7 linked regions of the Homo sapiens genome follow. The protein of the gene in region 1 purifies or fractionates together with the protein of each later gene. This does not show direct contact. Each region holds a gene or a part of one and is shown in the gene's direction. Other genes may lie near its edges.

Evidence for each region.
Region 2: the proteins of HCRTR2 (region 1) and ATP2B3 purify together in Homo sapiens (affinity purification with mass spectrometry; one large-scale study listed by BioGRID and IntAct). This does not show direct contact.
Region 3: the proteins of HCRTR2 (region 1) and DMXL2 purify together in Homo sapiens (affinity purification with mass spectrometry; one large-scale study listed by BioGRID and IntAct). This does not show direct contact.
Region 4: the proteins of HCRTR2 (region 1) and FLT4 purify together in Homo sapiens (affinity purification with mass spectrometry; one large-scale study listed by BioGRID and IntAct). This does not show direct contact.
Region 5: the proteins of HCRTR2 (region 1) and PDS5A purify together in Homo sapiens (affinity purification with mass spectrometry; one large-scale study listed by BioGRID and IntAct). This does not show direct contact.
Region 6: the proteins of HCRTR2 (region 1) and IGDCC4 purify together in Homo sapiens (affinity purification with mass spectrometry; one large-scale study listed by BioGRID and IntAct). This does not show direct contact.
Region 7: the proteins of HCRTR2 (region 1) and FAM162A purify together in Homo sapiens (affinity purification with mass spectrometry; one large-scale study listed by BioGRID and IntAct). This does not show direct contact.

What each region holds. Positions count from the first base shown.
Region 1 is NC_000006.12:55,172,809-55,177,704, forward strand, and holds the start of HCRTR2 (orexin receptor type 2), read left to right. Parts: upstream 1-1,706; 5' UTR 1,707-1,779; coding exon 1,780-2,002; intron 2,003-4,896. UniProt on the Homo sapiens protein: Nonselective, high-affinity receptor for both orexin-A and orexin-B neuropeptides. Triggers an increase in cytoplasmic Ca(2+) levels in response to orexin-A binding.
Region 2 is NC_000023.11:153,555,596-153,559,902, forward strand, and holds part of ATP2B3 (plasma membrane calcium-transporting ATPase 3), read left to right. Parts: intron 1-453; coding exon 454-633; intron 634-735; coding exon 736-823; intron 824-1,321; coding exon 1,322-1,428; intron 1,429-2,516; coding exon 2,517-2,708; intron 2,709-4,133; coding exon 4,134-4,307. UniProt on the Homo sapiens protein: ATP-driven Ca(2+) ion pump involved in the maintenance of basal intracellular Ca(2+) levels at the presynaptic terminals. Uses ATP as an energy source to transport cytosolic Ca(2+) ions across the plasma membrane to the extracellular compartment.
Region 3 is NC_000015.10:51,448,985-51,452,031, reverse strand, and holds part of DMXL2 (dmX-like protein 2), read left to right. Parts: intron 1-334; coding exon 335-387; intron 388-1,685; coding exon 1,686-1,903; intron 1,904-2,838; coding exon 2,839-3,047. UniProt on the Homo sapiens protein: May serve as a scaffold protein for MADD and RAB3GA on synaptic vesicles. Plays a role in the brain as a key controller of neuronal and endocrine homeostatic processes.
Region 4 is NC_000005.10:180,639,404-180,643,710, reverse strand, and holds part of FLT4 (vascular endothelial growth factor receptor 3 isoform 1 precursor), read left to right. Parts: intron 1-4,307. UniProt on the Homo sapiens protein: Tyrosine-protein kinase that acts as a cell-surface receptor for VEGFC and VEGFD, and plays an essential role in adult lymphangiogenesis and in the development of the vascular network and the cardiovascular system during embryonic development.
Region 5 is NC_000004.12:39,822,192-39,825,773, reverse strand, and holds the end of PDS5A (sister chromatid cohesion protein PDS5 homolog A), read left to right. Parts: intron 1-285; coding exon 286-289; 3' UTR 290-2,911; downstream 2,912-3,582. UniProt on the Homo sapiens protein: Probable regulator of sister chromatid cohesion in mitosis which may stabilize cohesin complex association with chromatin. May couple sister chromatid cohesion during mitosis to DNA replication.
Region 6 is NC_000015.10:65,384,647-65,388,953, reverse strand, and holds part of IGDCC4 (immunoglobulin superfamily DCC subclass member 4 precursor), read left to right. Parts: coding exon 1-146; intron 147-367; coding exon 368-505; intron 506-2,297; coding exon 2,298-2,403; intron 2,404-2,894; coding exon 2,895-3,123; intron 3,124-3,838; coding exon 3,839-4,000; intron 4,001-4,307.
Region 7 is NC_000003.12:122,400,982-122,405,288, forward strand, and holds part of FAM162A (protein FAM162A), read left to right. Parts: intron 1-1,778; coding exon 1,779-1,901; intron 1,902-3,276; coding exon 3,277-3,382; intron 3,383-4,307. UniProt on the Homo sapiens protein: Proposed to be involved in regulation of apoptosis; the exact mechanism may differ between cell types/tissues.

The sequences.
Region 1 (4,896 bases):
AAAAATTATGATTGGAGGAGGGGGTGGGGTAGTTAACTAAATCTCAGTGTAAACCACCAATGTCTTGTGTGTGTTGAAAAAATAATTACATATAAAAACTGGTTGCATCCAAAGAATAATGTACTTTTTGCACTGGCAAGACTCAAACCATATTATTGTTACTTCCTCCCAGTTACATATTTTGCAAGATATTGACAATTGTCTAAAGGAAGACCAAACAGATGTAGGTGGGAGCTACTGTCATTTGAACAACATTGAAAAGAAAAATACTAAAAAAGAAACATGAGGGCATATAAAGGAGCGCTGGGGCTGTGATGTTTATTTTGAATCTGTGAAGCATTGTCATGTGGAAGATTTATTCTGTGTAGCACCAAGATGCAAACTAGGAATTAGAGGTAAAAGTCTCAAAAAGACAAATCGTGGCTTGAGACCTTGGTTTAATGTAAGAAACAGTTTTCTCACCCTTAGAGCACTCCCATAAGGATGGAAGTAGTGAATTGTGGTGGTCACATTCAAGCTAGATGGGGACATGTCAGCAATGTTATCAGGAGGCTTCTACTCTGAAGCTGAAGTTCAGACAAGATTTCCAGGCTCTTCCCAAGTGCAAGATTGTAATTACTTAAATGCAATATTTTTACCATGTTTATTAAGAATAAAAGGATCATGAATTCACATTCTGACAAATGCTAGAATACTTATTATTAGAGACAAAACCAGTGCATGAGAGAATGGCAGGTGACATCAGCCCTGAATCAATGGGAAGAAAGACCCAATGGGATGTGGTATTTACCAGAGAGAGCACTTCTGCTTAGATTGCTACATCCTACAGTGAATGTTTAATATCATTGAGTATATTGGTGGTCTGTCATGCTTGACAACATTAACTATGATCATATTTATGACACTTGGCGTCCTTCAAGAATTTGTAGCTCTATTTCACATGACACTTAACTATCGCAAATACAAATTCCAGCTAAATAGACCCTTCAGTTTAAAAACAGTCTCATTCTCAAATTTTAAGGAGAAAGTGAAGACGGAGATGTCTTAAAGACTCGGCAAGTACTAAGTTGGCAAATGTCAAATGTTAAAATAAGTTTATATTAAATGTTAAAGTGTTTGCCTGGAATGACTTTTCCATTGTCCTGCTTGAGAAACACAGAGGCACCTCCTTATTGCTTTTATATTTGCTTTACAAAGACAAATGTATCAACATGCTCTGTATTAATTGTATGTTGACATTTTTGTCATATCCACAGACTGATGCATGTCTGTGCATGGTTTATAATAAGTGCACGTAAAAATAGAGAAAATAAGTAGAAAAAGAGAGAGATTTAACTCTCACCCCCCACCCCCCAAAAAAACAGATTAAATTAGTTTTCATTACTTTTTTTTTTTTCTTCAGCTTCAGCTCTCCCTCAGCGAGGGAGGAGGCTGTGGGCTGCGGACTGAGTGCTGGAATGAGGAGTAATTGAGCTTCAGCTGAGCCGGACGTAGCTTTCTCCTCCTGGTGTCATTGCTGCAGCCTCCAGTGCCGGGTCCCTAGTTCCTCAGCTGCCTATCTTCCCGGTGCAACATCGCCTGTAAAGACAGCAAAGCCACCGCAGAAGTTGCCCGGCAGAAGACTCCGGAGGCATTGGCTCAGTAACTTTTCACGTCATTTTCTGCTCGGGAGCCCCTTCTAGCCTCTCCGCGCAGCCTTTCCCACCGCAAATCACCAGTGCTCATGGGGCAGGCGGAGAGGAGCTTGCAGCATTGAGCGGAACCGGACTTGAGCCCGTGATGTCCGGCACCAAATTGGAGGACTCCCCCCCTTGTCGCAACTGGTCATCTGCTTCGGAGCTGAATGAAACTCAAGAGCCCTTTTTAAACCCCACCGACTATGACGACGAGGAATTCCTGCGGTACCTGTGGAGGGAATACCTGCACCCGAAAGAATATGAGTGGGTCCTGATCGCCGGGTACATCATCGTGTTCGTCGTGGCTCTCATTGGGAACGTCCTGGGTGAGTCTCCTCCCGGGCAGCCCTCCTAGGGGCTATCACCCCCTCTCCGCCCCGGGCTGAGAAGGCTCTAAAGAGACCCCTCCCTCCCCCGGGAAGCAAACAAAGAGGTCGCTGCTCTCGGATGGGGTTTTCTAATAAAATAATAATAATAATAGAAAGTTTTCTGATTTTCCGAACCGGGACCGAGCCCTGGAAAGGTTATTCCCTGTTTTGCAGGAATAACGGGGAAACCGCGTTTCTTTTTCGAGCACCTAGATTACAAGCGCAGGGAGAGGGGCCGCGGCAGGGATCTCCAGGTGGATTTTGTTGAGTGTGTGTGTGTGTGGGTGGGTAGGTGGGGGAGTCAGTCATCCCTTTGTGTAACGTGGCTGGGTGTTTCAGGGGGGTTGGGACGAGACAGAGCTTGCAGAATACAAAGCTACATCCCTAAGGAGCAAGCTCTCTGTGGCTGTGGAAGTCACAAAGCATTTGTGAGCTAGGTGGCATTGCCCTTTGGCGAGGAGGTTTAGTCTCCAGTCAAGAGGTGGTAATGAACCAGCAGGGAGTGGAGACGGAGGCAAAGCAGGGAAGTGCACTCACTCATAGAAGCTGAATTAAACAGGATCCATGCCTGGAGCAAGAAGGAGGGGCATCGGAGAAAAGTACCACAGAGATCTCAATCATCCATCCATCCATTCATTCTTACATCCATTCAGCCAAATATTTTTTTTTTTCAGTCTGCTTGTTGCCAGGCTCAGGAATTATTCATGTCAACTGTTTGTTGTTGTTTTGTTTTGTTTTGTTTTCTCCAAAGATGAGACTAAGCTTAATGCTAGGCTATTTGTCCCGGTCTAGGTCTGTATGCAAACACGGGTTTCCTCGACCCCTCATCCCCCTCCCCCTAAACAATTTCTGAGGGTTGGGGAGGGGGTGAGATGGCAACATGGTGAGTGCGATGATGGAATGTATTAGGGCAGTTGGGGAATATACCTCCAGAAAAGGGGCTTTGGAAGGGAGGGATAACTTGAAATAAATTGTGAATGGAAGGAGAGTGTACCTTGATGAATGAAGAGTAGAAGGCTGGGAGACTTTTCACATGCAGAGGGCAGTGTGGAGGAAGTCTCTGCTGAAAATGACAGGAGATGGAGGAGGCTAGGAGTTGCTCTTGATTTTCATTTATAAAAGAAGAAGAAGGTGAGTGAGGTGAGATAGGCTGGGAGGCTTTGCAGTCAAAAGCAAAGAACTTGTAGCTGCAATGGGGACTGACAAGGAAATTATCAGGCTTTCAGACTAACCTGATTTTTGCCTTCTCTCCCAAGTGTGTTGGTCTGGGTAGAAATCATCCCGAGTAGTCTCTCACCAACTCAGCAGGCAGAATAGATGATAGTATGTGAATGACAGGAGTTCTCCAGAGTGTTGGTAGAATGTTATTTGAGGAGACAAGAAACCTCTGAGAACTTTAGTACATTTTTAAATATTATTTTTAGACTGTTTTCCTTTGGTTGATTTAAAAGTAAAAATAAAGGAAATCTTTTTGGGATACTAACAAAATGAAACAAAAGTGGAAATACACAAGATTAGGATTCTTGTTATAAGCATAATTCTGTTGATAATAATCCTAATCTTGCTTTCCTTCTTCTTGTTACCCATCCTTAGGATTACATCTCTTAAGACACATGGCTACCAGCATAGCAACATTTTACTGCATTATGCCAACACTTATTGATAAGTGAATAATCAAAATTGAACATATATTGAGTACCTACTGTGTGCCAGAGCCCTTCATGTACATTCTCTCCCTTAAATATCAAAATAACCCACATTAGCCAGAAGAAGAAACAAGACTTAGAGAAATAAAATGACGTATTAAGGGACATAATTTAAATTCAGTTCCATTTTTTCTGACCTCAGATCCAGAATTCTCCATTGTTATTCCACTCTAGAGCTAAAAAGCATATAGAGAATAGATTCTCTGCTCCTGATTGTCTGCAAGTTTATTAGATGTGTTCCTGTTCTCCTCTGCATCAACGCCCACTGCCAATAAAGTACAATGAGGGATTAATGGCACTGTCATTCTCTTCACCAAAAACCTTTCCAGAGAAGCAGTAATTTTTTTATGAATAGCTATCAATAGTAACTATTTGCCTTCCTTATTTTAATTTTCGGCTGAATCTTTGTGGTAAAATGTGCTCTTCTTTGTTGTTATTGCATTTTTACCTTGCATAGACCTTGTAGTGAATAGTCTCCATATCCTAATTGCATAGTTTAGGGATACATGTTTGCTAGCCTGGGGAGTTTTAGTTTCAAGAAGGAAACACCTCTACAGTAAGGCTACTTGTTTCATAATGTCAAGGAAGATAGCACTGTCCACAGCCCCAAGTGCTGAAATGGCCAATTCCATTCAGCCTAAAAAGAAAGATTTACTCAAAGCACTCTGCCTTAAAGAAACTGACAGCTATTTTCCTCAGGACTGAATAACACTGAAATCCTCTCTGGTTGAACTGAAATGCATTCTTTTCTGACATACTGCCTGAAAGTTGATGAGGTTTAGGTTTGACATTTAAACAAACGAGTAGTGTCGTTACTCACAGACAACTTCCTGCTCTTTGATGTCACTGTCAAATTTGCAAAATGAATTAGATTGAGAATTGCTTCTTTGCCCCTCTGGTATAAGTAATTTTGCACATAGAGTGGTAGGACAGGATGTCACATGATTTATGCAAAATAAAGATGCAATATTAAGTATGAAGGTAAAATACCACAGTGTAGGCAGCAGATGTAATCACTGAGCCTTCAGGTCCAGTCACCATTTGTACTTTCATATAACTGCTTGGAAAATCTCAACCTTTTTGGGCTTACAAATATAATGCCATCAGTTAGAAGTCATCTTCTCCACAATGTCCTTTCATGAAGTG
Region 2 (4,307 bases), on another chromosome or scaffold:
TGCCACCACCTCCCGGCCAGTCTCCTGGCTTCCCGCTCTCAACCCCTTGCAGGCTGTTCGCTTTCCACTCAGCACTGGGGAACCTCTTTCTCTTTCTCCAGAATCTAATGTGATGCAGGTGGTCCCCAACTTTTAACAATTTTGTAACTTGGTGCAAAGGTGATGCACATTCAGCAGAAACTTTACTTCGAGTCCCATGCTTTTCCCTTTCAGTGCAGGATTCAATGAGTTACATGAGATAATCAGCACTGTATTCCACAATAGGCTTTGTGTTCAATGCTTTTGCCCAACTGTAGGCTAACACAAGTGTTCTGAGCACGTGAATCGGATGGCTTTACTCTCACCTCTGCTGGACCTTGGGCCACCTGCAGATCTGATGGAGGAAGGGGTACTGCCTCAACCCAAAATACGTCTTGCCTCGATGGCCCCGCCCACCTCTCTTGTCTCTTCTAGGTCCCTGAAGCTATCCGAAAATGCCAGCGTGCTGGCATCACAGTCCGCATGGTGACTGGGGACAACATCAACACGGCCCGGGCCATCGCAGCCAAATGCGGCATCATCCAGCCCGGGGAGGACTTCCTGTGCCTAGAAGGGAAGGAGTTCAACCGGCGGATCCGCAATGAGAAAGGCGAGGTAGCACCCGGCTGTCTGCCACCCCAGACCCCCCTTCTCCTCACCCCAGCCCCCTGCGTGCCCGCCTTAGCTCTGCAGCGTCCTTGTGCTTCCCCTCCCCAGATAGAACAGGAGCGGCTGGACAAGGTGTGGCCCAAGCTGAGGGTGCTGGCCCGGTCGTCTCCCACCGACAAGCACACACTGGTCAAAGGTAGCCGAGCCCCCACACCCCTTTCCTGGGGTGGCCAGCCCGAGGTTGTCTGCTTCCTGACACCAAAAGCCAGGTTCCCAAACAGGTCCCCAGGGCCTGCCTAGGAAGCTGGGTCCATTTGTCCCATTAGCCCAGAGCAGCAGGGCAGGGGCCCATGAGGGAACCAGGGTTCGGGGAGGGCTAGTGACTCACTCCAAGTCACACAGTGAGTCTCTAGAAGCAGTGGGTCTAGAGCCAGGGACCCAGGATTGTGTCCCCAGGCCCTAACCAGATCCCTATCCTCCCACCCTGGCCCTGTCACTCAGTGAGATTTGCTTACTTATTTGGGGATAGGAGATGATCCAGGTGACGGGGAGCACAGATAATTGGGACAGTCAGGACGGGGTAATCCCAAAGGGTTTTCACAGCCAACCTACCCCCATAGCTCCCTGGGCAGGGCTACACAGGGTTGTGGTGACAGATGGCCCCAGCCCTGCCCTGCCCTGATCTGTCTTCCAGGGATTATCGACAGCACCACTGGTGAGCAGCGGCAGGTGGTGGCTGTGACAGGGGATGGCACCAACGATGGGCCGGCCCTCAAGAAGGCGGACGTGGGCTTCGCCATGGTAAGCCACCTGGTGCCCGCCCAGCTCACCACGGCAGATGGGGCCTGCATCTGTCCCATGGACATTAGCTTTGTACCAGGAAGTGGGAGCCAGTGTCGGGGCAGGTTACAGAGTGCCTGAAGGTTCTTTCTTTCACATCCTGGCCACTTGGGCCTGCGTGGGCTCTGCCAGTCGGGGGACATGTGGTTAAAGGCATCTGCTGTGATGCCCAAGGTGACAGTGGGCCCCAGACATACTGTGGAGAGGAAGGGGAATGGGGGGTGGGGGCTCATCACTGATGGCATTGCCCACCCCCGTCCTCTCTAAATGGACTCTCAGCCCCAGATGAGGTGAGCAGAGTCCCCAGATGTGCTCTTCCTCTGCACTTCCTTCCTGTTGCTCACCCACTGAGCAGGGTAGCCCTGCAGACGCCACCCACATGGCTGGTTGCGGCCCCTCAGTGGCCCCACAGCCACTGAACGCAGCAACCTGGTGAGCCCCTCTCCCTGCCCTACCGAAAAGGAGTGTCACCCAGGGAACCCAGCCCAGTCCTTCCCAGCACCCGTAGCCCAGAAGGGAGCTCCAGCCCAAGCTTCGAGAGGTGGCAGCTCTCACGGGGCCAGGCTTGGGGCAGAGGAGAGGACTGCGCAGCTTGGCACAGCTGCAGCTGCGCCTCCATGGGACAGGGACTCCTCTGCAAGGAGCCGCCCCGCCCAGGGTGTCCCCATGCAGGACTTCCCAGGGCTCCTTAGCCAGCAAGCCTCTCTGGAGTGCTAAGAACAGACCACGCTGCTTGGTGGCCACGTGGTGGCAGCTGGGCTTTATGTGTAAAGCTGTGTTGATGCCATGTCATCAGCACCCTCTGTGTTTATGAGCAAAGCCCCCCCCCCCACCGTGACATGTGACAACTTACTGTTTGTAGTACAAGAATGTGTTGCATTAAAAAAAAGCAACAAAAAACAGTGCTGTTCTTGGCTTTGGGGGGCGGGGTGGGATGTTATTCAGAAGGGGAGAGCAGGGAGCCAGCCCAGGCGGGCCAGGTGATCAAGGGGGGCTGGGGAAGGGGCCCCCACAAACACTCTGTGTGAGTGTGTGTGTCACCCCCCCAGGGCATCGCAGGGACCGACGTGGCCAAGGAGGCCTCCGACATCATCCTGACCGATGACAACTTCACCAGCATCGTCAAGGCAGTCATGTGGGGCCGTAACGTCTATGACAGCATCTCCAAGTTCCTGCAGTTTCAACTGACGGTCAATGTGGTGGCTGTGATCGTGGCCTTCACAGGTGCCTGCATTACTCAGGTGGGTACTGGGGGCTGCCATGCCCCAGCTAGGACACCTGGGCTCAGGCCTGAGGGCCAGATTGTGAGAGTGAGGGTTTTGTTTTCTTTGCTGCAGATTATTTTAATTGAGATCAAATTCATATGCCAAAAATTCACCATTTTCAAGTACATAATTCAGCACTCGAATTTGTAGGACATTCACCACGTTGTGCAACCATTGGCTCTATCTAGTTCCAGAAGATTGTCATCATCTTAAAAAGAAACCCTGTGCTCTTGAGCAGTCATTTCCCCATTTCTCCCCCAAACATCCCAGCCCCCGGCAACCACTCACAGGCTTCCTGGGTCTATGGATTTGCCTGTTCCGGACATTTCATTCCTATGGGATCAAATAATATGTGGCCTCTTGTGTCTGGCATCTCGCTTAGCACCGTGTTTTCAGGCTCACACACACCGTAGCATAGGGCAGGACTTTCTGCCTTTTCATGGCCTCATAACACTCCACGGCACAGACTGCCACATTATGTATGTCTGCCCTGATGGACACATGGCTCGTTCCCACTTTTTGGCTCTTGTGAATGGTGCTGCCAGGAGCATCTGTGTATGAGTTTCTGCGTGGGCTATGCGTCCCATGGGAACCCTTTCTCAACAGTCCCATTTTCCCCATTGGTGAGTGTCCAGATTTTCTTCACCCCGCCTTAGAAAGGGGGTGTTTAAATTGCCTGCTGATCAACTTGGTCTTTTCAAAACAATTTTTTAAATTGAGATAAAAAATCACATAACAAACTTCAACAGAACCATTTTAACCTTTTGAAAGTACATAACTCCGAGGTTTATATCCCTCCACTGTCTATTCCCAGAACATTCTCATCACCCCAAAAGGACACCCAGACCCCGTGAGCAGTCACTCTCTACTCCCCAAACCCCAGCCCCTGGCACCCACTCATCTGCTTTCTCTCTCTATGGATTTGTCAGTTCTGGAAGTTTCCTATGAATGGAATCAGACAGTACGTGGCCTTGTGTGTCTGGCTTCTGTGAGGCTGATTTTTAACGAACAACTCAGAGGAGCTGAGAAGGAAGGTCCAGTTCAGAGTTTCTGCCTCCTCCTGCCCCTGAGGTGCAGGAGACAAGGAGAGCAGCCCTCACTCTGTTGCCCCAAATGGCAGACCCCATCGTCGGGCTGTTTTGTGGTCTGGGGTTTTTCACCTCCTGCGAGGGATTTGGAGCACACCTGCTGCCAGGTGAGAGAAGGGAGGCGGGCACGTGACAGCCCAAAGAAAACGCCCCACTAGCGTAAAGGCGATGTAGGGATGGAGATGTCTGTTTTCATGGGCATGAAATCCTGGTGATGTGGACCCCATGAGGAGCCCCCAGGAGCTACTGGGTTTCCACCCCCAACCTTCCCGGGCAGGCGGCCCATGGAAAGGTGACTGCCTCCTCTCCATAGGACTCTCCTCTCAAAGCCGTGCAGATGTTGTGGGTGAACTTGATCATGGACACATTTGCCTCTCTGGCCCTGGCGACGGAGCCACCCACAGAGTCGCTGCTGCTGCGGAAGCCGTACGGCCGCGACAAGCCCCTCATCTCCCGCACCATGATGAAGAACATTCTGGGCCACGCC
Region 3 (3,047 bases), on another chromosome or scaffold:
ATGCCCATGAATAACATCTTGTTTCCCTGCAGTGGCTACCACCTGGGGATATAAAAGCATTCCTTATACTCAGGAAGTCATATCAGTTTCCTGGAGTGGCAATGGAAAGGAGATGGGGTAGAGGATGCAGAGACGGGCAGGACCATGTGAGATGGAACTGTGTAGTTTGACCCTACCCCCATCCTAGTTGGGAATCACTACTCTCTATAGGTGTGAGTGAACAAAAAAGATAAGAATGAATAAGCAAAATATTTGACTGAAAGACAGGTTGTCCCTGATGACGACTTATAACAATCATTTATGATGTATTTTTGTTATTGTGTTTCTTTAAAAGAAATGTTTGCCTCTGGGACACATTAATATCACCCGGAAACAGCCTCATTCATGGTGAGTTAAGGTCTATGATTTTTAAAAATATACCATGAAGGAATAATACACCATGAAGGAATGCTTTCTTGGTTTTAATTAGTGAATCCAGTGAGTGTTTATTGACAGGTTGAAAATGGAGAAATATTTAGAATGAATGACTAAAAATTTGGAAAGTTAATTAGCATATCTGGCTTCCTTGCTGAGTTAAAGATATATGGTCTCAGAAATCCAAAATAGTCTTTATATTCTATTCAGAAAATATGGTATGGATAGTGGTACTACTAACAAGGCTATTTAAGAAATTAGTTGCAAAGTATTCATTGAGCTTAATAGAAAATAACATATTTTAAAGAATTAAACCTCATCATAAAATACTTTTTGTCTTTTTTTCCTTTTTGTGGAGATCAAGGTCATGCTGTATTGCTCAGGCAGGTCTCAAGCTCCTAGGGTCAAGCTATCCTCCCACCTCTACCTCCCTAAGTACTGGGATTACAAGCATGAGCCACCACACCTGGCCCTAACCATAAAATAAAACAAAGGTTAACCTTATTATAATGACTAGAAATGTAAACAGTGCCATTTAAATATTATTCCTTTTAAGACAATACTTGCCAAATTAGTGTCCTAACTCTGTCTTCCACATAGTACCACCCAAAAAGTGCTCCATGCTCAAGTAAGTTTGGTTAAATGAAGTAGATTGTCAGAAAGACAGAAAGATTCTCAGTCTTTTAATACACTGATATGCATTTTGAAATATGTAGTTAATTCTCAATTTTATTGCAGAATTCTGCAAACAGTGGTTAACATTGCTTACAGATTTTCTGCATGTTAATTTGAATCTTTAATCATATTAAAATGCAAATACTCCTGGGAAGGATAATGAACTTCTTAACTTGTAACTGAAAACATTCACACATTTTCTCATAGTGTCGTTGTTTCAATTACTTACCTGAAAAGAACTTTTTGTACGGTACAGCACTTGGCTGGGTTAATACTCACCAACTTTGAGAAGGTTGGTCTCTGCTCTTCTGTATACTTTTTATGAGGCAGTATCACTTAGGGCTTAAGGTTTAAACTTTCTTTTTCTCTCTGTGTTCATTTCATATTGAGATTATGGATAAAAAGTTTGTTCTGACATTGCTTAACATTTTTCTTTAATCATGTGATTACAGAAATTCAATGACTTACAAAACAATAAATGTACCTTAGAATGAAAAATGCATCAGTAAGGTCTGTATTTAAATGTGGATGTAGACATCATAATTACCAAGACAAGAAATTGTTTTGAGAAATTCTCTGATGTTTTTCTTCTTCAGGTTTCACGTGCCACGATCATGGTGCCACGGTACTGCAGTATGCACCCAAACAGCAACTCCTAATCTCGGGGGGTAGGAAAGGACACGTCTGCATTTTTGACATCAGGCAAAGGCAGCTCATTCACACGTTCCAGGCCCATGACTCAGCTATTAAGGCTCTGGCCTTGGATCCCTATGAGGAATATTTTACCACAGGTTCAGCAGAAGGTAACATAAAGGTGAGTCAGTACAAGAGGTTGGAATGTGCTAAAGACTGATTGGAAAGAGAAAAAACAAAAACTCCACATTCTTTGAAATAAAGCTTCACTTTATTTCACTTGGGCTACTGCATGGAGATACTGCATATCTCAACACTCTGCCGCCTCCCCATGCTCCTGTATGGTTCTTTCTAAACTGTTATGGTCAATGAGATTATCAAACTCATTGGACTCAGGCCATTAGAAAGCTTTAAAGCATTCTATTTTGAGTAAAGTGTATGAGTTTAATGCATGAAATTTTTTGATGACATTAGTTTGGCTCCTTAGAAGCTTCTCCCCTCTCCCTCAGTACTCTTGTGTGTGGTGGAGGTGACGTTTCCAGTAAGTGAGCTAGTGCAGATGCTCCTTGACTTTATGGTGGGATTATGTCCCAACAAACCCATTATAAGTTAAAAATATTGTTAAAGTTGAAAAACATACTTTCAACTTAATATTTTCAACTTACTATGAGTTTATTGAGACTAACCTCAGGATAAGCCAAGGAGCGTGCTGAATGCGTATTGCTTTCACACTGTCATAAAGTCAAAAAGTCTTGTCAAACCATCGTAAGTAGGGGACTGTCTGTACCACACTACTTTTACATAGCCTTAGGACCTAGCTCAGCATGAGGAACACATTTAACTGAATTAACTCAAATAGTTAATTGAATTAGAGATGGGCTACATATGGTTAATATGAAGCCACAAGAGGATGTGAAGGAAAATATGGAAGGAGGACAGTAAATGAATCGTGGGAGTGGTGTTATCATTTCCCACTTAGATAAGCTCTTAGGAAAGAGGCAGTGGGTGGGAAGGTTGGGCTTTAGTGAGATCACTTGGGCCAAGGGAGCAGAAGGGCCATGTTTTTGCTTTTGGTCTTTTCGTAATATATTTTTAACTCCTTTTGTTTTGCACTAGGTTTGGAGATTGACAGGCCATGGCCTAATTCATTCATTTAAAAGTGAACATGCTAAGCAGTCCATATTTCGAAACATTGGGGCTGGAGTCATGCAGATTGACATCATCCAGGGCAATCGGCTCTTCTCCTGTGGTGCAGATGGCACGCTGAAAACCAGGGTTTTGCCCAATGCTTTTAACATCCCTAACAGAATTCTTGACATTCTATA
Region 4 (4,307 bases), on another chromosome or scaffold:
CAGAGGTGGGGAGGGGCTGTTCCAGATCTAGGGCACGTGGAGGTCTGGAGCCGCACCGGGTGGGTGGCAAGGAGGCCAAGGAGGCACCAGATTCTGTCCATAAGCAGCAAAGGGGCAGGGGATGGTTTTAGGCAGGAGAGGGACTTGTGTTCTAGAAAGATCATCTGACCCCTGAGCAAGGACTGGGCCAGTGGGAGACACTGGTATTGCCACCCGGGGGGAGAGCCATTGAGGCTGGCCAGCAGCGGGGAGGGGAGGAGGGAAAGTGGAGGGACAGCACGCCTGCAATGCCCGGGAGGGGTTCTGCGGCCAGAAAGCATCCACGCCAAGCTGCTGTCAGGATGGTGAGGAGAGGTGGGGGCAGGGGCCTGGCACTCTCAGCCACCCCACCCACAGTGCCCTCCTCTTGGGCCCGCTCCTACTCAGTCTGCAAAGCCCATTTCAGCTCAGAATGGAGGCACTTGGTGACCGATTGGCTGTGGGGGATGAGCGGGGTCAGGAATGTCTGGTGGGTGAGCATCACCTGGACAGCCAACCTAGTGGGAGGGAGAGCAGGGTTTCCCACGCTGATGGAAGAGATGATTACATTTTGTAAAATGCAGAAATGCAAATTATACAGACATCTGTAGAATGAATAGTAGCTTCCCTTAATCCTGTCTTCCCAAGACAATATCTTAACGGTCATGTGTTTTGGAATGCGTTAACCTCTGTGTGCTAGCTTTCTATCTGTACAGTGGCAATACGGAGGCAACCGCAGGGGTGTGAAGGCATGTGGAATGCACACATGCGTAGGGCTGTGCTTCACATGGACAGTGCTCGGTGCACGCTTGCTGCTGTTGCAGCAGGAGGTCTTGGGAAAGGAGAATTTGGAGAATTTGCCATCGGTGTATGGATGCTGTTTATCATTACTGTGTGGGTGCCTCCTTCTCCACATTCTCTCCAGCGCTGGGAATTCTCATTCTTTGTGGTACTTGCTCCTCTGGCGGGTGCACAGTTGTGAGCTCCGTGCTTCCAGTCATCCTACCCAGTGTTGGATGTGGGCTGGGCTCGAGGTCTGGGGTCCTCCAGGACTGGAGCCCAGGAGAGCTGTCAGGGAGGGTGAGAGCACAGAGTGGGGTTGAAGCCCCCCGGTGTGCCACCATCGAGAGAGAGAGTACATCCAGCGAGCAGGACAGGGCCCGAGGCCGGCTGGGGACCTGGGCCTGCTTCCACGGCCTCATCACCTTTACCATGCTCCATCTGCTCCATCTACTTGAGGGCCCAAAGTCACCGGCACTCTGGCCTGTGTGCCCGCCTCCTGGGCCAGCAAGCTCCTAATCAGTCTACAATGCCCCTTTCAGCTCACATGAATCCTCTCCCACCAGCGAGGCCCCCATGCTCTGACGACAACACAGGGTCACAGTGATACAGCAGCTGTAGCAAACCAAGCATTCAGGAGGCAGGTGAGAGCAGAGGGATCCGTGTGCATGAGCCAGAGACAGCTTATTCTTTTTTTTTTTTTTTTCACACAGAGTCTCACTCTGTCGCCCAAGCTGGAGTGCAGTGGCGCGATCTCGGCCCACTGCAAGCTCTGCCTCTCAGGTTCACGCCATTCTCCTGCCTCAGCCTCTCGAGTAGCTGGGACTGCAGGCGCCCGCCACCACACTGGGCTAATTTTTGTATTTTTAGTAGAGATGGGGTTTCACCATGTTGGCCAGGATGGTCTCAATCTCTTGACCTCCTGATCCGCCCACCTTGGCCTCCCAAAGTGCTGTGATTACAGGCGTGAGCCACTGTGCCCAGCCGACAGTTTATTCTTAACCATGTTGTTTGTGGTCTGTAGTTCCCAGTCATCCTAGGGCCAATCCACATCTCACAAGTGGGAAGACTGGGGCTTGGAGAGAGGAAGTGATTTGCCCAAGACCATACAGCAAAGAGCGGCAGTGCGGGGTGCCCAGCCGGGCATGCGGGCTCAGCTCTCTCAGACCTGCAGGATGTGCAGTGAGGACCGACAGCCCCTTAAGCTCTGAAGGCACAGGGGCTGCTGGCCAGGTTAGCAGGGGCCACCAGACAGGACGCTCCTGCTGCCTCCCCCCAGGTCCCTGCAGAGGCCTGGCCCCAGGAGTGAAGAGAGGGTGCAGGTGACCCCCTCTGCCCAACCCCAGCTCAGCCAGCAGCTCCGTTGCTCCCCGCCAGCTCCCTCCAGTCTGCAGCCTGGCTTCTGGCTGCCTTTGTCCTCCTGGGCTCAGCTGCCCAGAAAGTGTGTGTCCAGCTGGCAGGCCTGCCACACAGTCCCCGTCTTCCCAAGCACCCCAGGGAGAGGGAGAAGTAGGGCCAGGCCCAGGGTGGCCACCGCAGGGCCATGCTCTCTGCCAATGTGGAGGGGCCCCAAGCTGATGGATAATCCCAGTGCCATCCCTGTGCCGGCTGTGTTGGGCCTGGGGACAGAGCCATGGGCTGATGACACCCCGGCCCAGGAGCCGCTTGATGACTCGGACCCTCCACGTGCTGTGGGTCAAGGCCAGAGTGGGGATGACATGCTCAGCTGGGGGCAGCAGTTTGCCGGGCACAGAGGACGAGGGAGGACAGAGGACACAGCCCAACCGGGCAGGGAGGAGCCTGCTGGAGAGCAGGGGCCTGGGAGGCTGGTGCTCAGGGTGATGGTTGAGAGAGATGGCAAGGCGAGGGCAGGGCTGCGAGGATGCAGCTAGTTCTACCCTCAATCTCTCATGCCGGCCCCTTCACCTCTGCACCAGGACCTGGACCCAGCCATGCCCTGTGGACTCAGCCATCATTCGGAGAGCAGCTCCCAGAAACCAGCTAAGGCCAGCGCTCACCCACACTGCCCCGTAGAGAGGGCCGGGACCCTGTCCCACCAGGGTATGGCACAGCCAGCCCATCTCAGTCCCATCCTGGTGGGCCCAGAGAGGATTTGATGAGAAAATATGGGTTCTGTACAGAACAAGGGACGCAGGACACGCAGGTGTGGAGCCGAGGGAGGGGCCGACTCCCACATCATGGGAGGAAAGCAAGGCTGGCTCTCCCAGCAGCTCTCACTGGGCTGGGCTGGGTTTTCCCTCCGTTTTCAGGAAAGAAGCTTTTGAAAAAAACGGCATCATTAGCTTAAAGGGCTTTGCCCTCAGCCAACTAGGGCATGAAGCCAGATGGAGGCCAGGCCCCAAGGAGGGGTGTGGTGGAGGCCACTGGGGCACAGGGCCCAGGCAGCCATGTGCCTCCTACGTGGGCCTTCCTGCCTGCAGGGGTCTCTGAGGCTTCATGCTAGGGGCTAGGAGGAAGGCCGGGCTGGGGTCTGGCCTGAGCCTCTGCCCCCGGCCTTTGGAGGGGAGCCTGGTCCTGGGGCAGGGACCGACCTGGACTCAGCCAGACTGGGCTCCCACGTGGCCACCTGCTGCTGTGAGGCCTGGCGCCTCAGTTTCCTCACTCGCTGACCTGGCTGTTGAGCCCTCCCTCCCAGGCTGCTGTGAGGATCAAATGAGGCAGTCGCAGCCGGCCGGCTGCCCCCCACCTCGCTCGCTGCTAGTGCCTAACCCATGGGACGTTCCCCCACCCTGCCTGGCCCTCATGGAGGGGTGCCAGCACTGCCCAGGGGAGGTGCAGGACCCTCCTGTGCTGCTCCCACGCCCGCCACGCCTGTGGCTGACGCCAAGGCCCCGTGGCCCGAGGACGGAGGGTGTCCTGGGGCTGCTGACAGTACAGAGAAGAGGAGGTATGCATTCTGGCCTTTCTGACCTCCACCCGGTGCCTGCCCCAACCACGCTGCTGCAGGCTTGGGAGCCAGGGCTTTGCGGGGCCTCAGGGAAGGAAGAAGCCAGTTCCCGGGCCAGGAACAGGAAGGCAGGGGGAGCGCAGCAGAGGCCAGGATGACAGTGCTTCCTGCTGCGGGAAGGGAAGGACAGCAGAGACAGACAACAGCCAGGCAGGAAGGATGCGCCTTCTTCAGGGCTGCAGGTGGGGGCTGGGCAGTCACAGAGCCTCTGGACGTGGCAGGCTGCAGGCCTGAATCTGCCCAGGGAGCCCATCCTATAAAACAGGAAGCATCTTTTCCAGTGGAACAACAGGGTCTGACAAGAGTCTCTGAGGTTTCAGAGGTCTGTTGAGCCATCCATCCATCTACTTTCCATCCATCCAACCATCTAACCATCCACCCATCCATGCTTCACCCATATGCCCACCTTTCCACCATCCATTCATCCTTCCATCCAGCCATTCGTTCATCCTTCCATCTGCCCGTCCATCCATCCTTCTGTTCAATCTACCCATCCATGCATCCTTCCATCTGTTGATCCATCTTTTTATCCACTCATCCA
Region 5 (3,582 bases), on another chromosome or scaffold:
TAAAAATTAGCCAGCCATGGTGGTGTGCGCCTATAGTTCTAGCTATTTGGGAGGCTCAGGCTGGACGCTGAGCCTGGAGGACCACTTGAACCCAGGAGTTGGGGCTGAGTGAGCCATGATCGTGCCACTGTACTTCAGCCTGAGTGACAGAGTGAGATCCTGATGCTTAAGTTTAAAAAAAAAAAAAAAGATTTTAGATAACAACTATGGAAATGAAATCATTTTCGTTTGGTTTATATCTTCTCCACATCTTTTCTAACTTTGCGTTCTATTCTTAACCCTAAGGTAAAAATGCATTTGCAAAGGGAGAAAATGAAGGCCAAACAGAAGCAGGCTCCAGCTTCTGCAAAAACTTGGATTCACAAATGTCCCTGAACAGAAAATGAAGCTCACTTCAGAACACACACTCTCTGCCTTGAAAACTAAAGAGACTATTACTTCCTTTTCACATGACCACAAGTCCTCTGATGGAAATGTACAGCAGAAACTCTTGAGAGAGAGGCTAAAAGCAACTCTGTTCTCCCCCTTCCCCTAGACTTTTCTTACGAAAAGTCAATAATTAAGCAAATTGCTTAACACTTGGTTCCAGTTCCTGCCTATCTGGAGTTTAAATGCGTAATACACCATTAATTTCCACGCTGCAGTTTTTATTTTAAAGAAAGTAACAAGATGTCTTTACACTGACACTGAAAATTCATCCATTTTAGAGCCAGGAATTCCCATGTTACACAGGAAAAAATAGAAGTCTACTGAATTAATTTTTTAAAAGAAAAGAGATCAGATTAAATATTTCTTTGTTTTTCCTTTTGGAAACTTTTATGTATAATTCTTTCTGCCTGCCTACTTTTCTGCAAAAATGAGATGTACAGATTTCGGTTCCCTGCTATGAAAAGTGATGTGGTAGCAATTTTATAAATGTTGCTTTCTGATTTTTATCAGAGTGAGAAAATTAAAATTATTGATTTGCAAGTAGTAAACAGTTCATATTTTGATTTCCCCTCATTTTAGTTTAATATAATTTGCAATAAATGTACATATTGTTGTTTGTTTCATAAAGCATATCACTTTAAAATGGTTTTTACTCCTGTGATTATGTTGGAATATTTGGAATTTTAAAGGAGTAAAGACTGTCCAGCATTTGGTTTTATAATGTTTGTCACCAGATTTTTATTAATGTAAAAAAAATCAATTTTTAAAAAATAGTTGGACTTTGGCAGCTTTTAAGGAAAGTTGGAGGTGTTTTAGGATTGCTATCAATTTTCAGCATTGTGCTATTTGGAAATAAGTGTTTTGCTTTTGTCTGATGGTCTGGGCTCATTTTTATGTTTATTTTAGAAAACTGTTGCATCAATATATTATGTTTCTTGGCATTGTTCAGCATAGGTAATGTGTGCACTTTATGTGTACACATAATCATATTTAAGTTTTTTGCATAAAATAAATGCTTCTAGATGTCATGGCAGTCTTTTTAATCTTTTTATCATATGCTTTCTTGTGAATTTTTTCATGTTAAAGAGCTAAAGTCATAACATGATTACAGTCAACTCTCCATTATCTATATAAAATAGTGACTAAGCCTCAGGTTTTTAATTTTGTGATAACAAAATAACGAAGGCATGTAAGACCTGATTCTGGAGGAACATGAAATTTGTCTTTTCTCATGTCCAGAGTTCTATCCTGCCCCCACTGTCCACTGTAGGGTCATCCGCAAAGCCCTAGCAGAATGTGCTCACTCCATTTCCTTACACGTTTCTAGCATGGGTCAGAGGAAACAACATTTGTGTTATAACTTCGTCTTGATAGGCTGTAGTGTACATGGGATGTAAAACAAACAAGTGTATCAAAGGTGGATGATTCTGTTAGAGTGAAGTTTGAGAGTAAATGTCACTTACGTTTCTCATAGATAATCAAGAGTTGGCTGTGTATTGACTGAAAGATGGGTAATTATTTTAAATATGCATTTACACACATTTAGGTATCAGAAGATGCTTAGGGAACAATGGATACCAATGATAGAAAATGATACCTTTACAGGGGCAGAAAAATCCCCACTCTTCCTTATTGCCTCTTCAGAACCCTTTAGAAAGTATAAAATATTGCCTCCAACATGCTGAAAAAGAGTATCTATGCATAAGTATCAGAGAAGTCCCTCAAGCAATCAGTAGGTGTGTTCTATTTAGAGAGAGTTTAAAGTTCTCTTAGCATCAGACAACTTGATTCCTAAGGTTTCCAGTGTGTCACCAACAAAAAGTGCATTGATAGGGACCTTTGTCTCTTCCTCCCTTTGATTAATTGCCCGGCATCACAGTTTACTAGATTACCAAGTGTTACATCATATTAAATAAAATGTAGCAGAACCATCTGCATCAATATATTCCTGTTTAGATTTTTGCAGGAGAGAAGTTAAAAGGATTTGCTCCTTGTATGATGTAAGTGGCCCACCCCAATTTTGTAACATGATGCAAGTGTCTGGCACTAAGGGAAGCAAGAGTAGGGTTGTGGAAAGACCAAGCTGATGGGGAGGGACTTGTTTACGGGAATTTTTTTAGTTTTCCTTTTCAAAGGAAAACATTAAAATCCCTTAGGAATTTGGTATTCACATCTCAGAGAACTACAACACAAAAGTGCAGACTTATATTTGAGAATTAATGTTAACCCTTTGTGTCTAGTTTGAAGCTTCTTGTATTTGTCTAAAACAACAAGCCAGAATTTTGTATCTCCTTTGATAAAAAGTGTGTATAATGTAAAGTAGTTTTGCATATTCTTGTGCTGCACATGGGCTGAATTTTTAAATTTTTTTTAAAAACTTGAAGCAGAACCTTGTAATTTGTGTAAATGACAAGTGTAAAATCCTACCATAAAATGCTAAAAATATGCACTGTTTCAAATAAAACCAAGAAATGCAGCATTATATAGTAGTGTGGAGCCCTGAATATTCATGTACCCCTGGTATGTCACAAGTTGATAAAATGTCTCTGCATATTTTCTGTTGAGATGCTGGAGTCTGAATATCCTAATTAGAAATCAAAAGCCACCTTCAAACTTCCTGGCTGGGTACTCTGAGGTAGCTTACAGTGGCTAAGGAAGAACATAGTGGATGATAAATTCTGAGGCACATTCGGAATTTCCAAACGAGGTTTGTTTTAGGGGGTGGCTTTTTTTTTGAAATGAGATCTTACCCTGTTGCCCAGGCTGGAGTGCAATGACATGATCATGGCTCACTGTAGCAATCCTCCTGCCCCAGGCTCCTAGAAAAGTGCTGGGATTACAGGCCTGAGCCACCAGACCTGGCCAAGAAGTTATTTTTTTAACCTAAGAATTTAATAGCAGCCTTTGATTCATATTAGTCTATGGTTCATCCATTCATTGCAAGTTCTGCACTCACATATTTAGTTCCATAACAAATTCAAGAGAGCAAGCAGATTACATAAATGTATCTGGAGTAAGAGGTGACCAGAACGAGAGGTAAGAAAGTCTATCATGGCTGGGCGCAGTGAGTCACACCTTTAATCCCAGCACTTTGGGAGGGTGGCCGAGGCAGGTAGGTCACTTGACCTAAAGAGTTCAAGACTGGCCTGGGCA
Region 6 (4,307 bases), on another chromosome or scaffold:
GCGACTGAGCCCCCTGACACCGTCCACGGTTCGGCTGCACTGGTGCCCCCCCACAGAGCCCAACGGGGAGATCGTGGAGTATCTGATCCTGTACAGCAGCAACCACACGCAGCCTGAGCACCAGTGGACCTTGCTCACCACGCAGGGTGAGGGCTCCTGCCCCAGGGCATCTGCTCAAGAGCTTCCCAGCCTCTCCCGCTTCCAGCAGTGAGAACAGTGCTGGGGTTTGTTCCAGGGGCTACTGGGAGAAGCAAGCAGAAGCTGCTGCCTAAGTGGAGAGCAGACTCTCCCAGTCCCCTCCCTGCCCACCTCTGCATCCACCCACCCCATCCACCATCCCTGCTCTCCCTGCCTCCCTCACCCCCAGGAAACATCTTCAGTGCTGAGGTCCATGGCCTGGAGAGCGACACTCGGTACTTCTTCAAGATGGGGGCGCGCACAGAGGTGGGACCTGGGCCTTTCTCCCGCCTGCAGGATGTGATCACGCTCCAGGAGAAGCTGTCAGGTATGAGCACAGGGCAGCCCAGGTTTCCCTGGATTGACTTCCAAGCCCCTGCCTGTGGACACAACTACAATTTCATTGTTTTGCACAGCTGTCCTCCAGGTTTGGTGGGGGCAGAGCAAATGTGAAGGGGAAATAGGTGTGGTTCAGTGATAACTTGATTCAGAGGCCAGGTTCGTGGGGGACTGGCTTTTTTTTTTTTTTTCTGAGATGGAGTTTCACTCTTGTTGCCCAGGCTAGAGTGCAATGGCGCAATCTCGGCTCACTGCAACCTCCGCCTCCCAGGTTCAAGCGATTCTGCTGCCTCAGCCTCCCAAATAGCTGGGATTACAGGCACACACCACCATGCCCGGCTAATTTTTGTATTTTTAGTAGAGACAGGATTTCACCATGTTGGCCAGGCTGGTCTCAAACTCCTGACCTCGTGATCTGCCTACCTTGGCCCCCTAAAGTGCTGGGATTACAGGCGTGAGCCACCATGCCCAGCCAATTATTGTATTTTTTAGTAAAGACGGGTTTTCACCACATTGGCCAGGCTGGTCTCAAACTCCTTACCTCAGGTGATCCACCCACCTCGTCCTCCCAAAGTGCTGGGATTACAGGTGTGAGCCACTGCATCCAGCTGGGACTGGCTTTAGAGACCAGTTTCTTTGGGAAATTGCTTTGATTGGAGGATTAACTTGGTGAGGTGATGAGCTTTATGGTGTGGAGGTGGACAGCAGGACTGGCTACGTAATTTCCAGGGCCCAGTGCAGAATGAAAAGGTGCTATCCCTTATTTTAAAAATTAGAGGTCGGACGGCCAGGCGCGGTGGCTTATGCCTGTAATCCCAGCACTTTGGGAGGCCAAGGTGCGGGCGGATCATGATGTCAGGAGATCGAGACCATCCTGGCTAACACGGTGAAACTCTGTCTCTACTAAAAATACAAAAAAAAATTAGCTGGGCGTGGTGGTGGATGCCTGTAGTCCCAACTACTCAGGAGGCTGAGGCAGGAGAATGGCGTGAACCCGGGAGGAGGAGCTTGCAGTGAGCCGAGATCATGCCACTGCACTCCAGCCTGGGCAACAGAGCGAGACTCCGTCTCAAAAACAAAAACAAAAACAAAAAAAGCTAGAGGTCGGGCATGGTGGCTTGTGCTTGTAATCCAAAGTGCTTATGCACTTTGGAAGGCTGAGGTGAGAGGATCACTTGAGGCCAGGAGTTGGAGACCAGCCTGGACAACATGGTGAGACCCTGTCTCCACAAAAAATTTAAAAATTATCTGGGTGTGGTAGCTCATGCCTGTGGTCACAGCTGCTTGGGAGGCTGAGGTGGGAGGATCACTTGAGCCCAGGAGGTTGATGCTACAGCGAGCCGTGTTCATGCCACTGCACTCCGGCCTGGGTGACAGAGCAAGACCCTGTCTCAAAAGAAAAAAAATTAGAATTTTAAGGTGGTGACAGCAGAGCATGAACTCAAGCGTGGGGTCCATCCAAGCATGGGGTCTGCGCACCTGCACATGTTGCACACCCATGCAACAGCCCTGGGAGCAGGCAACACGTGCTTCACCAAAGGCCAGTTTGAGGCAGAGAGACCATAACTTCTGGGTGTGTTTTAGGGAGGACAGTCAGAGGGAGAGGTAGTAGTAGTTTCTGTGAGGCTCAGGGCCCTCCTGTCCTTGTATCAGAAGATTGTGAGCATCTGAAGGGTGAGGGTCCAGCTGGTGTCTCCTGAGAAAGCCATGGATAGTCCTGATCTATGCCCTGTGCCCTTCCTCTGTCCTGACCTGCTCTGTGCCTCTCTCTCCCCCACCAGACTCGCTGGACATGCACTCAGTCACGGGCATCATCGTGGGTGTCTGCCTGGGCCTCCTCTGCCTCCTGGCCTGCATGTGTGCTGGCCTGCGCCGCAGCCCCCACAGGTGAGCAGGGGAGCCAGTCTGACTTCAGGGAAGGGAGACTTCCAGGAAGGGCTGCAGAATGGGCCATCAGGGAAAGTGGCCATGACTTGCCCTTGGCACTCCCAGGAGCCCCGTTAAAGTCAGGACTCTGGGATGAAGGAATCAGGGATGATGTCCTCCTGAGAATGGGGAGTGGACTTAGGGGAGCCCCAGCCTACCCTCCTCAGCAAGGCCAACAGAACTGCCTCACTCCCACTTCCTCTGTAGCTGCCAGCATCTTGGAAAGAGGGGCCCCAAATCTCCAGATGCCTGCAGCCAAGGGAAGAAGAGCCCTGTTTACAGCATCAGGCTGTTTTGAACAATAGCAGTTTTTCTTACTCATTGCACAGACCAGGAAAGCAAATCCCAGAGATGGGCAGGAACCTCCCCAGAGACATAGGCTGGACCAGATCCCAGCCCCGCCTGACCCCTTACTCTGACCGCTATGCCTTGTTTTCCGTCTTCCCTTCCAGGGAATCCCTCCCAGGCCTGTCCTCCACCGCCACCCCCGGGAATCCCGCGCTGTACTCCAGAGCTCGGCTTGGCCCCCCCAGCCCCCCAGCTGCCCATGAATTGGAGTCCCTTGTGCACCCCCATCCCCAGGACTGGTCCCCGCCACCCTCAGACGTGGAGGACAGGGCTGAAGTGCACAGCCTTATGGGTGGCGGTGTTTCTGAAGGCCGGAGTCACTCCAAAAGAAAGGTAAGTCAGAGCCCCACATTGCGGCTCTTTTCTAAATAGGACACCAGGGGGCGACAGAGCACAACGCGTGGCTATGCGAGCATGGCTCTACCTCCTCTTCGGAGCCGGCTGCGGACGCTAGGGCCTCTCTCCCTCCTCCACGGAATGGTTGGCTGTCAGGGAAGCACATGGGCCTCCATATCCCGGCGGAATAGGTCAGCTTGGTTCTCACGAAGGAAAGGGCCTCCCAGCAGGTGACCCAGGGTAGCCAGAACACCCAGCTCCCTCCTCATCCCTGGAGCTGGGGAGACCTCTGAGACCCAGACATCCCCGTGTGGGGAGAAGAGGCCAGTCGGCTTGGCTGTGGCCAAGTGGGACTGGGACCAGGATAAGGTGAGGCCTTCGCTGGGCTGGTCCCTTTCATGCTGGCAGGGGCGGCACATCCCACCCAACTCCGACCCGTCCTCCCTCACCCTCTCCCCGCCTGGCTCGGACACCGCGGGCTTTGCAGAGCGTCTGGTGTTCCGCTCCTCTGCAGGAGGACTCATCCTCAGATTACCCCGCTGACTCTGAGCCCTTTCGATGCTCCTCCCCAGAGCCTTGGAGAGGGAGAGAGCAGCGGGTGACAGTCTGGACCCTGCTCCCCCGCGGCCCATCCCAATTCCCTCCCCCGGGCTTCCCTCTCCCAGCCAATCCTGGTCGTGCCCCTTACTGTCCCCTTCTTTCCCCCGTGCAGATCTCCTGGGCTCAACCAAGCGGGCTGAGCTGGGCTGGTTCCTGGGCAGGCTGTGAGCTGCCCCAGGCAGGCCCCCGGCCGGCTCTGACCCGGGCCCTGCTGCCCCCTGCTGGAACTGGGCAGACGCTGTTGCTGCAGGCTCTGGTGTACGACGCCATAAAGGTCAGCGTCCTGGAAGGAAGGGGCAGGAAAGGAGGAAAGGGTCTCTGTGCTTGTGAAGAGGAAGTAATGAGTTCTCTGGAGACCCCTGGGTGGTAACTTTCCTGGGGATAGAAGTCTAGCCAGGAGACCCCTGGAGCCTCCAAAGGTTGAGTAGGTGGAGGGCAGGCCAGTTTGCAGGAACCTGTTTCAACCTGGGTTGAAAACAGCCCCTCCTCTACCCAGACCTAAGTGGGCCACAGCAGTTCCGTGGATCTGAGGGTGTGGCTGGCCTGAGTACGCTCAGCCCTTCCTCCTGTCCCCAGAGGCC
Region 7 (4,307 bases), on another chromosome or scaffold:
ATATGTTTTGTTTTCCATATATACTTAAGATATTTCTATGAAAATGTCTTATCCTAATATTTGCCAGCAAGAGTCTTGTGTAACCTTTTGAAAGTTGAGTAATAACTGTAATGCTGCTTTGCTTATTTTTCATAAAACAGTGATTTTCTTTAATATATCTGAAAATGCATTTTTCATTTATTTTTTCTTATTATTATATGTATATATCAAGTGTGGCATTTGAGAGTCTGTTGATAAAATTTACAAAAGTAGAATTACAATTTTATGTTAATGATGAAAGAATGACTTATAATATTCACCTGATTGTATCTCTTATTTTGTGTGCTTTTGTTAAACATATGTCGATTTATTTTGCCAACATGATTATATAGACAGAGAACTCCTTTTCTTTCAGGTTGGTTCATGTGATCCTGGTTAATGGAACATAAGTGAGATTTTATGGGTGACAGGGAGAGAGATCAGGCTTGACTTGAGAGCACGTGGGAAAAGAAGGGGGCTATCTCTTCGCAAAGATTTAAGTATCTTATAAGAACTGTTTGCCAGTGCAATTATGAGTAAGTGTATTTGTGCCTAATTTTTATTTTTTAAAAGCTCAGGTGATTATAATTTCATCTGTGAAATGTTGGAAGTATAGTCTGATTAAAATAGTATATATCTAAAAAAAAAAAATAGCCATTCTGGCTGGTTGTGAGATGGTATTGCATTGTGGTTTTGATGTGCATTTCTCTAGTGATCAGTGATGTTACTTTTTCTTCTGTATGCCTGTTGGCTGCACGTATGTCTTCTTTTGAAAAGTGTCTGCTCACGTCCTTTGCCCACCTTTTAATGGGCTGGTGTTTTTTTTCTTGATAATTTGTTTAAGTTCCTTATAGAGCTGGATATAGACCTTTGTCAGATGCATAGTTTGCAAAAATTTTGTCTCATTCTATAAGTTGTCTGTTTGTTGATAGTTTCTTTTGCTGTGCAGAACCTGTTTAGTTTCTGCACAGTAAAAGTTAAATTTATTAGATCCCATTTGTCCATTTTTGCTTTTGTTGCAGTTGCTTTTGGCATCTTCATCATGAAATCTTTGCCCATTCCTATGTCCAGAATGGTATTGCCTAGGTTGTCTTCCAGGGTTTTTATAGAGGTTAAATGGTATTTATTAGCCATATAGCGATCATTGTTGAAAATGGGTGATGAGTATATAGGGGTTCGTAATGCTACTATCTGTGCTTTGAGTTTAAATTTTTAAAATAAACTATATATATTATATATATAGTTTTAAAGTTATATGTAGTTCAAAACTACATCTAAAATTGATTTCTAATTAAGGACTTGTGGCTTGCAAGGAGCAAGGCTTTCTAGAGTCACTTGCTGACCACTGCAGCCCCCTAACCAGTTTATCAGCATCGTATTGGCAACTTGGTTACCTAGTTTATCACTTTTGGGAGGTTACTAATCTTTACTTAAACAGCCCTGATGCCATAATACATAATATTGCCACCAGAGCCATTGTTATGATAAGACACATGTGGGAAGTACTTATTTAAAATTTACAGCTGATAACATTTTTATGTTGTAAATTCCTAATTTCCTAATCAATAAAACATTTATATTTTAAAACAGCATCAAGCATAGCACTTTAAATATACTATGTGTATCTTACATATAGTAAATTCATTTCCTAAATGAACTACCTTTTATAAATGAAACGTAACTTGCGGGTATTTCTTATTTTGAGAAAACATCACATTTTCTTTCTTTCTTTCTTTGAAACATTTTCCTCTCTTTTTTAGGAAGCTGTTTTAGGTTATGTGAAAGAGATGTTTCCTCATCTCTAAGGCTTACCAGAAGCTCTGATTTGAAGAGAATAAATGGATTTTGCACAAAACCACAGGAAAGTCCCGGAGCTCCATCCCGTAAGTTTTTATTTTTTCTATTTATGGAGTTGGTAGCTCCCAAAGAGTAGGAAAACTTGGAATCAAAAGAACCCAAAAGAGAAGAGGTTCCTATATCATACCCTCCCATGTAGAGAGAACACATTGTGTTCACATTGTGCATGTGCACATGACCAATATGAGCACAACATGGGAGGCCTGAGGGAGGCCCATGTTCCTACATCATACCTCCCATGTTTTACTCATATGCAGGCCCATCTTCCTACATCACACTTCTCATGTTTTACTCATACGTAGGCCCATGTTCCTACATCATACCTCCCATGTTTTACTCATATGCAGGCCCATCTTCCTACGTCACACTTCTCATGTTTTACTCATACGTAGGCCCATGTTCCTACAGCAGACCTCCCATGTTGTATTAATATTGGTCATGGGCACATGCACAGTGGTTTCTTCATTTTCAGCATTTGTCATTTTCATCTTCTTGCCTGTAGGGTTGGACTGGAGCTTTCTGTAGGAGAATGGATGCACCAAAGTAAATAGTAGTCCAGAAATTATGTTTTAAAGAACTCTAAAGATGAACCAAATTAAGATATTATGCGTTAGGTAAAATATAAGCAGGGCCTTCTCCTTATCACCCTCACTGGCTCTCCCTTTGCACTGATTTTTATCTCTATTCCCGACTTATTAATGAAATGACTCAGATGGCATATATTCCCTTCAGAGTCAGCAAATCTTTAAGTAGTATTCATGCTCTTTCCTTCCCCAACTGGGTCTTTTCCCGTCTTCTTTTAGTTACAATACTGCTGTTGTCTTAGTCATCCAAGTTTGAGGTTCTTCGTGACTCCTTCCTCTTTGTCTTAACCAGTCTCCACATTCTTTCAGTCATCCTCAGACTGACCTCATCTCTCTTTCCACTGCGACAACTCTGGTTCAGAGAATATCCGCTCACCATGGTATTACAGGCTCCCATTTGGACTTTTTGCCCACTCTACCGTGTCCCCCTTTTCTGTCTCCATCCATTGTACAGATAATAAGCCTTCCTAAAACATTAGTTTCTTCCTTGTTTCAAAATGTACAGTAGTTCCCAATCAAGTCTAAACCCCTTAGCCTGACATTCAAGATCTGGTAAAATCTGATTGTACCTTACAAACTTTTTCTTAGTCTGCTGAAGTCAGACAAGCTCCTCACCGTTTCCTTGGGATTTTATAATCTTATTTGGAAAATGAAGCATCCTAAGAAATTCCATTCAAATAAAGTTCTAATTAACTTGAGGTTTCTCAGTGTTTCTGTTTAGTGACTAGTTAAAAAGCACTAATACCATTTTTCTGTTGTTAAATTTGAGAGTTATAATCTCAAACACATAAAATTTCTTGTCTGGTTTTTCTCATAGGCACTTACAACAGAGTGCCTTTACACAAACCTACGGATTGGCAGAAAAAGATCCTCATATGGTCAGGTCGCTTCAAAAAGGAAGATGAAATCCCAGAGACTGTCTCGTGAGTGCTGAATTTAGTATTACAAGCAGCTTTCATTTCTCACTGATCTAAGGGAAAAGCAATGCCTCTGAGTTCCAACTGTTTAAAACTTTTCAACCAAATTTGAAAACATTTTTCACTTTTCCAAATGTTTTATCTTTGGTAAGTACTTGGAATATAAACAATGCTAGAAAACCTGTGTCTTATCATTGTTAAGTTACACAGTGACTGGTGAAGAACTGTCAGGTACTCTGAAGTCAATTGATTATTTGATTTCATCCCCTGGCTACAGAAGTGTGACTTTTTTAAAGTTTGTTTTTAATCTAGGTATATAAATTAAGTACCATTGACAATGACTGTATTCCCCCAAATCCACTTAAGTACTCAACCTTAGGTGTAAAAGTATTTAATTGCAATATTCTGGAATTCAGGAAAGAGTGCTTCCTGTCACCAACTTCCTTAAACCTAAGGGAAGGGATCTTGGCTGGGATCATGGAACTTTTTCAGAGTTTGTAGATGATGAGTGCAGGTTCCTCCAACCCAGTTTCTCAACTCAGTACTATTGATATTTGGGGCTTGATAATGCTTTGTGGCAGGGGGGTGTCCTATTTGTTGGAAGATGTTTGGCAGCATCCCCGGCTTCTGCCCCCTACATGCCCGTAGCATTGCGGCAGTGCTGACAACCAGAAATGTCTCCAGACACTGCCAAATGTCCAAGGGGCACGAGCGGGGTGGGAATCTCCCCTGGTTGAGAACCAGTGCCCTAGCCTCATGTTAAAGACCCTGACTGGCTGGCATCTTGGCTAAAAAGAGATTCTGAGAAATAGATGTCATCTCCTCTGTGAGGCATCATCCTATTCAGGGACAGGGACTTCAGACAAAGCTCGTGGAAGTTCCCTGTCAGCAAGAAACTATTCCTGGATCTTCTGGTCTCTGGTTTCAAGTC